2 separate regions of the Homo sapiens genome follow, and region 2 is linked to region 1. A link means that fine-mapping ties the variant in region 1 to the expression of a gene that starts in the linked region. Tissue or cell type: whole blood. Region 1 holds a variant in brackets; the other region holds the start of a gene. All regions are shown on one strand. Distances are between the middles of the regions.

Region 1 (4,339 bases):
CAGGGGTGAGCCACAGTGCCCGGCCACATACTGGCTAAATATTAATAAGTAAAAGTTTATATAACTAGCCTGGCTGTACTCTGAATTCATATTCAAATGTCCAGCTGCCTTTTGAATAGACACTTTTTGACTATCACTAGATTGTAGGTCTACTAAGTAGTTATTCATTATTTCTGCACAATTATTTTACCTTTGTACATTTTTTTTTAAAACTATTCTTGTTGAATTGTATCCAGTTTTGTAAGAATCACTCTTAAATCTGTTGTCATATCTATTCTTGTCATAGTTGGAGAGTATACCTACTCTGTGCTGACCCCAACAGTAGAACCGGAAGGCAAATCTTGTTTCAGTTACTATTTTAAAAAAAGAAACCTCACACACACAAAACCCCACAACTTTTTAATAACTGTTAAATAAGTAGAATAGGCTGTTTTGTGAAGTAGTAAGTGTCCTATTTTAGAAATATGCTAGTTGAATCTGGATAACTGTGTCAGAGATTCTATGGAAGAAATGCTTCTACCACCTAAGAGGTTAGGAAATTATTTCATGGCTCCATAACTAAAGGCTCAGTTCATTTCAATTCAGCAAGCAGTTTTTGAGCACATACAATGTGTGGTCACAATGCTAGGCATTGGGAATACATAAACATGGATAAGAAGTTATACCCGCTACATCCAAGGGGCTCTCAGTCTAGTAAGGAAGATGTCTTAAGAAAGTAATTTAGTCAAAAGCGAAAGGATGCTTGGGAAAGTAAGTCATCTCTGCAGTTCATGGTAGTTGGAAATGGCTTCTGTGTGGATGTAAGATGTAAGGTGAGCCTTAATCATTGACACTGTAGTGTAATGGAATTTGCATTGGCATAGGATTATTAAAACTCAAATCCTTGTTCAGCGTTTCCTAACCAAAATTTTGTCATCTTTAAAATTCAGGTAATACTCATGTTTCAAGGTGTTGAGAAGGTTGAGTGGAGTTCTGTGTTCATGTATGTCTGTGTACCACACAAATACATGTAAAGACACATTTATCTTTTACTACTATGCTTTACACAATTAAGTATTTTATTAATTGTTATTAATACCATCATGACAATCATTCCAGGCAAAATTTGGCTAGAGAAGAATAAGGAAGACATCAAGGAAGAAGAGTATTGAGCAAAGGCCTATGTGGGAATGAAAATGTAAAATGCCCAAGTTAATTTGATGGTTTGAGTTAGACAGTGTTGGGAAATAAGCTGTTAGGGTGTTATCTATGCCAGAGAAAAACAGTATACTTTACCTGTCATCTAGATGCTGATTTAAAAATTTTCCTGGCCTGGCGTGGTGGCTCAGACCTGTAATCCCAGCACTTTGGGAGGCCAAGGCAGGAGGATCGCTTGAGCCCAGGAGTTTGAGACCAGCGTGGGCAACAGGGGTAATCCCTACCTCTACAAAAGAAAAAAAAAATTAGCCAGGCGTGGTGGCATGTGCCTGTAGTCCCAGCTACTCACGAGGCTGAGGTGGGAGGATCACCTGAGCCAGGGAGCTCGAGTCTAGGGTGAGCCGTGATCATGCCACTGTACTCCAGCTTGGGCAACAGAGCAAGACCCTGTCTCTAAATAAATAAATAAATAAATTAAGATTGTTCCTATTTCTGCTTTAGTTATTTGTGTTAATTTTAAATAAGTTCCATGTATTCTGAGGTTTACACTTAAACATCTCTCTCCTTAATTAGAACATAGACAAGTAAAGTCTATTGTTATTTTTCAAGAATATTTGGACAAATCTATTGAAATAAATATACAGCGTTTTCCAGGTTATCTTTGATAACCCACTATGTTCAGGTTATTTGGCTGGCAACAGAGGGTATATACAAAGATGAATGCATTGAAATTGTCTCCAAACTCAAAGTTTAGAGAACACTTATAATAGCACTAAAACAGATAAAAACAAAATTACTGAGAGAGAATTAATTTGAACTCTTTGGGGTTTGGTAAAGGCTTTATGAGGAGTCTTTGAAGTAGGCTACCAAAGACTTTTCTTTCACTAATCTCAGCATATCAGCTCTTAGTAATTGTTTTGATGTGTTTTTTAATAACT[C/T]GATTGAGGTATAATTCATGTAAACTGTACATATTTAAAGTGTACAATTTGGTCAGTTTTTACATATATATATACGCCCATGAAACCATCACCATAATCAAGATAAAATATCCATCACATCCAAGTTTCTTTGTGACCCTTTCTAATTCACTTTCTACCCCCATTTTCAGGTAACACTGATACACTTTCTGTCACTATACATTAAGTTGTATTTTCTAGGATTTTATATAATGGAATCATAGTGAATTTTTTTTTGTTGGGCTTCTTTCACTCAACATAGTGATTGTAAGATTCATCTGTGTTGCTGATGAATCTAATAGTTCATTCCTTTTTAAGACCAAGTAGTATTCTGTTACATAGATCCACCACCATTTGTTCACCTTTTGATGAACATTTGGTTATTCACAGTTTTAAGGCTATTGCAAATAATGCTTCTGAATATTTGTGATCTTTGTATGTTATGATTTGATTTCTTGGGAACCTACCTAATTAGATGGAATGGTTGAGTCTTAAGTAGGTGTATTTTTCACTTTTTTTTTTTTGAGACAGAGTCTTACTCTGTTGGCCAGGCTAGAGTGCAGCGGCACGATCTTGGCTCACTTCAGCCTCTGTCTCGTGGGCTCAAGCAGTTCTCCTGGCTCAGCCTCCCAAGAAGCTGGGATTACAGGCATGTGCCACCACGCCCAGATAATTTTTGTATTTTTAGTAGAGATGGGGTTTCATCATGTTGGCCAGACTGGTCTCGAACTCCTGACCTCAGATAATCCACCCACCTCAGCCTCCCAAAGTGCTGGGATTACAGGCATGAGCCACCGTGCCCGGCCGTCTTTTTCACTTTTTAAGAAACTGCCAAACTTTTCCCACCAATGTATGAGAGTTTCAGTTGTTCCACATCCTGCCAACGCTTCATATGGCAGGTCTTTTTAATTTTAACCATTCTAATGGGTGTGTAGTAGTACTTTGTTGTGGTTTTAGTTTGCATTTTCATAATGATTAGTGATACTGAGCATCTTTTCATGTGCTTATTTACATCTATATATCTAGTTTGGTGAAGTCTTTATTTTGTGTGCTTTTTAATTGGGTTATCTTTATTACTGTTTGTGTGTGTGTGTGTGTGTGTGTGTGTGTGTGTGTGTGTTGTCTAGGTACAAGTCCTTTGTCAGATTTATGCTCTATAGGAATATATTCTCTTAGTCTATGGTTTGCCTTTCTTAAAAAATATATATATATTAATGGACTGATTTTGCCCCATTATTGAGGCATTTCACCCTGAGTATTTATATGTACCCTGTGTATTTTGAGGTTTTCCCACTCTGGCTTATGTGAAAACTATTCTGTTTTTTTGTGTTAGCTTTGGGAATTTTTTTTCTTTTTTTAGACGGGGTCTCACTCTGTTACCCAGGCCAGAGAACAGTGGTGCGATCATAGCTCACTACAGCCTCAACCTCCCAGGCTCAGGCAATCCTCCCACCTCAGCTTCCCAAGTAGCTGCGACTACATGCATATACCACCATGCCTGGCTAATCCTTAAAAAATTTTTAATACATGGAACTTATTTTTATTTATTTATTTATTTTTATTTTTTTCTCACTGTGTTGCCCAGGCTGGTCTCCTGGTGGGCTCAAGCAGTCCTTCCCCTCTGCTTCTGGAGTCACTGGGATTATAGATAGGAGTAATCTGTAATTAGCTCTGCTAATTTTTTTTTTTTTTTTACCTATTCCTTTTCAATGTTTTTTCTCCGGGATTTGGATAGTTTTCTCATACGCATGTGCTGTTCAGTGCCAGCTGAAAATTTGAGGGAGCCCCTGCTGGTCTGCAGCACTCTCTTCTCAGGTACTCCTGCTGTGAATTCAGCCAGTGTGGCCTCCCTAAATTCTCACTCCCATCTCAGCTGCTCAGGGCGACTTCCCGAGCTGTTTGGGCATCCCCTCCCTGTGCCATAGTCTGGAAACTCGGCAGTAAGCTGGGGCAGTTGTTGGAGTCACCTCCTTTGCCTTCCTTTTCTTATAACTATTGTTGAGTGTCTGAAACTTTGTATGTTTTGTTCAGCTTTCTGGTACTTTAAGGTAGGACAGTAAATCTGGTCCCTATTACTCCGTCTTGACTGGAAGTGGAAACTGTTTCAGTGTATTTTTGCTTGAGGAAGAAAAATGTCATACTTGAGTCATTTTAGTTCTTGATTTATGTTAAGCTGTTGGATTGGTGCTTCTCCAAATACTCACTGGAACTGATGTTTCAATTAGATGTGGAAGACTTAACAACAA
Region 2 (4,000 bases), 32 kb before region 1:
CTGTGACCTTTTTAAATTTTTTCAAAGGCTGCTTAGTGCTCTAAGAACAAGATATCCATTTTAAGTGAAATGAGTGGATTTTTATTATTAGAAAAGTTATGAAATGATCTTTGATGCATGTGTTGCCTGTGAAAGTCATTCACTTTAATGTTCAGTGGGAGTAAGTGTAATCCATGTAATTGCTAGAAAGCTAGGCATCTTAGCACAGGAATAATCACACTGAACATTAGTAATGATAAAAATATCATTTATAGCGGCCTATCATATGGATTTTAAATACATCATCTCTGTCATGATAATCCCATGATATAGGTTCTAATATTACCAATTTTCAGATAAAAAAAAAAAACTAAGGCCCAGAGAACTTGGGTCACTCAATTAATAAGCAGCAGAGCTAATTAGAGTCTGGGTCCAAAGCTTAAGCACTCTTCGTCTTCTTTATATTTGGCTTTTTCCTAGCCAAAAACATGGAGGCATTGCTTACTTTTACTTTATCATTGTTATCTTGGCATAACATCAAAATAATTAGGAGCTGATATACCTAAGTGTATAAAACAGGATAAAATTAATTGATGAGGAATTAGATAAGGAAAATAAAATCAAACTAGGGGCAAATTTCATGTATAAAAATGTGTACTGTGCCATACATTTTGTAAGTGGAGTCTCTAAAGATTGCTTCATAAGGAAGAAGTGAATAATGACTTTGGGAACACTTGGTAACCCCTAGGACTCAAAAGATTGGGTGTGAGAAGTTATTAGTAAGCATATGTATTAGGCAAAATACAGTGAGATGAACCTGGAACAAATGCTCGCTGAATGCACTTAGAAATATTATCAGGCGACTCAGCCTATAGAGCATACGGGTTAGAATGTCTATTTTAAGAAGGAGCGGATATTTACTAAATGCTAATTTGAGCAAAGTTCTACAAAAATATCACTGACCATGAATATTCAGGCATTGACATGCTACAAAATAGCATATCGAAAAGAACATCTGTTGCCCTAAAGATGGTTTCCTGCACAGAACGTCTCCAAATTTTCAGCATTCATAGGCTGGCCCCGTTTCTTCTTGGTTAACATTTAGAGGCACGCCTAAACTTAGAGGAACACCTCTCTAAACCAAGGAGACACTTAAAGAGAAAAGGAGTAAAGATGGTGATGGGCTTATAAAGAGCAATGTAATAGTGTCTTTGAAGCAAAAGCTAACTTAATGAAAACGTGGTCCCAATTTCCTTAAATCTGGATCACCGTACGACTTCTGTAATACTTATTATTTCCCCAGCTGGCAAATAAACTGGAGTTCAAGTGGGAAAAAACAAGGTATTGTTCAGACTTATGATTTTTGGGGTCAAAGATTCTGAGCAATAACCTATTAAAAAACCCAGCTTTTGATTTGAGTATGTAAGTAAGTACATGGGAGGAACGTATGGATCTGGAGTGGTGGTAAATACAGAGCATGTTTGCTTCGCAAAGCAGATTAGCTCATACTTAATAATAGAGTAAATCTGTTGGGCCATGACTCAATGCACCCAAATTCTCTAGATTGCTATGTCTCTACTCGCTAAGCCTTCGGGAACAACAAGCACAGAACTTTTAGGGTGCTGTCTCACTGATGTCGGCGTTAGCTCTGGTAGTCCAGGTCAAGATTATACCAAAGATTCAGGACTTAAATTCCTGCAGAATGTAAGCCCCTTTCCAAGTTCTCTGCTTTACTGTATCCTGTTTATTTTCAAACTCAAATGGAAAAAAACGAAACAAAAACCTTGGGCTTCAAGAGGCATCCTGCCGCAAGGCCCAGCGATGTGAATTTTCAACAACCGTCTCAGGCAGATTTCATGCTGATGGTTCAGGCACTAAACTTTGAAAAACACAGTATCACAGAGTAGGGATGGTGATGTAAGAGTCATCTGTAAAAGCTGTGCTGTTTTGGCAGCCTGGGAGGCTAAGGTTTAGTCTAGGCGACTAAGGTTTAGTCCGGGCTGTATTCACACCCAAAACAACTAAAAAAGCGGAGGAGTCTTTGAGTCAATCCCTGAAGCTCCGGCTAAGAGGAAACTCGCCCACGCTCCAGGGCAGCGACGCCGGCTCCACCTCAGCCACGGCTGTCTCAAGCTTCTCGGGGTTTTCCGCCGGCTCCACCCGAGCCACAAGTCTACAGGACTCCTCGGAGCTTTCCGCCGGGACGCAAGACCCACCGCCAGAGGTTGGTACCTCCTAGAGAACAGCGAAGCGCATCCCGAGGGCCGCCGGCCGGAAGCGCCCTCCAGACCCGCCCCCTGCCCTCCGGAGCCGGAAGCTGGGCATCTGCAGCTGGCTCGGCGCACTCCACTGACCGTCCCGACGATGCTACGCGCGCCCGGCTGCCTCCTCCGGACCTCCGTAGCGCCTGCCGCGGCCCTGGCTGCGGCGCTGCTCTCGTCGCTTGCGCGCTGCTCTCTTCTAGAGCCGAGGGACCCGGTGGCCTCGTCGCTCAGCCCCTATTTCGGCACCAAGACTCGCTACGAGGATGTCAACCCCGTGCTATTGTCGGGCCCCGAGGCTCCGTGGCGGGACCCTGAGCTGCTGGAGGGGACCTGCACCCCGGTGCAGCTGGTCGCCCTCATTCGCCACGGCACCCGCTACCCCACGGTCAAACAGATCCGCAAGCTGAGGCAGCTGCACGGGTTGCTGCAGGCCCGCGGGTCCAGGGATGGCGGGGCTAGTAGTACCGGCAGCCGCGACCTGGGTGCAGCGCTGGCCGACTGGCCTTTGTGGTACGCGGACTGGATGGACGGGCAGCTAGTAGAGAAGGGACGGCAGGATATGCGACAGCTGGCGCTGCGTCTGGCCTCGCTCTTCCCGGCCCTTTTCAGCCGTGAGAACTACGGCCGCCTGCGGCTCATCACCAGTTCCAAGCACCGCTGCATGGATAGCAGCGCCGCCTTCCTGCAGGGGCTGTGGCAGCACTACCACCCTGGCTTGCCGCCGCCGGACGTCGCAGGTGACCCCCCGGGCGGCCCGTGTGCTGTCCCGGTCCTCCCACCCGCCCTGGATGCTCTCCCGCCTCCCCCAGACCCTGGGCTTTTCCGATGCCCCCCAGTTCTCTTTCCTCTTTTCCCAAGCCATCATCCCTCGGGCTACGTCCTCCCTGTCGAGGGATATTACAGACTTGGCTATCTCTTTTTCCCCTTACACGTATGTTCATTTATTAATTCATCAGGTGTAAATTCAGCACCTTGTACTCGCTGCCTGCTTTAGTAGAGTTGGGGATCCAACAGGAAAGGGGACAGACGAGGTCTCCCGCAATTTTTGCGCTCCCGTTCCCAAACTGAATTGCCCCTTCGAGCGCCAACCCATCCCTTCCCCCTTCCCTGGCGTCTAGTTTCACAATTGGGCGCACGTTTTAAAAAACAGAATCTAGAATTTTCTTCCTCGGGCTTTGCTTCCGATACTAGTTTTTCCTTCTTTCTTTTTTTTTTTTTTTAAACTCATCATCTTTTTCAGATGACAGTTTTAGACCTACACCCTGTTTTAGGAACCTGATCTCAAGCCTTTGTGTCCTCCTTTTTTCTTCTGTTTTGTTCATGTTTTTACTGTAGCGTTCCCATCGTTGTAGCTGTGGTCCGTGGTCACAAGCAGTAACAACTCATTTATTCCATTAATTACACTTTTTCGAAATTTGAGAAATCATCTAGTAAGGCCCCGTTATTTCACAGGTGAAGAACCCGAGCCCAAGAGTATGCCTTCTTAATTGTCTTTCTCTAAGGTCTAGTATCCAAGTCTTCTGTTTTCCTAGAATGGTTCTTTTTCTCTTAGAAAATGTTGTAATAGTTACAAATAATAATGATAGCATACACCTCATGCCTATTGTATGCCAGGTATGCCTCACATTTATTTTACAAAATCCTTACAACCACAATCTGGAGTTGATAGTATTTTCCCCTTATCTCAAAGATGAGGAAATTGATACACGAACACATTAAATAATTTGCCCATTTTCATACAGCTAGCTGTGGACCCA

What was found. PIP is the estimated chance that this variant, and not a neighbour inherited with it, causes the effect.
Region 2: MINPP1 starts here. The variant in region 1 is fine-mapped to the expression of MINPP1 in whole blood (INTERVAL, PIP 0.99).

What each region holds. Positions count from the first base shown.
Region 1 is chr10:87,534,338-87,538,676 of GRCh38, forward strand. All of the region lies in intron 4 of MINPP1 (multiple inositol-polyphosphate phosphatase 1), which reads left to right. Among named protein-coding and RNA genes, the nearest start is that of MINPP1, 32 kb to the left of the region's middle. RefSeq lists a silencer at 2,903-2,952. The variant C/T (reference allele first, on the strand shown) is at 2,076.
Region 2 is chr10:87,502,573-87,506,572 of GRCh38, forward strand. MINPP1 (multiple inositol-polyphosphate phosphatase 1) reads left to right here and starts at 2,321. Exons shown (of 5, transcript NM_004897.5): 1 at 2,321-2,980. The coding sequence starts at 2,344. MIR4678 (microRNA 4678) reads left to right here and starts at 1,309; the gene lies at 1,309-1,382. It overlaps LOC112268064 (a long non-coding RNA gene), which reads right to left and starts at 2,262. Exons shown (of 2, transcript XR_002957094.2): 1 at 1,763-2,262. RefSeq lists enhancers at 2,291-2,380, 2,541-2,600.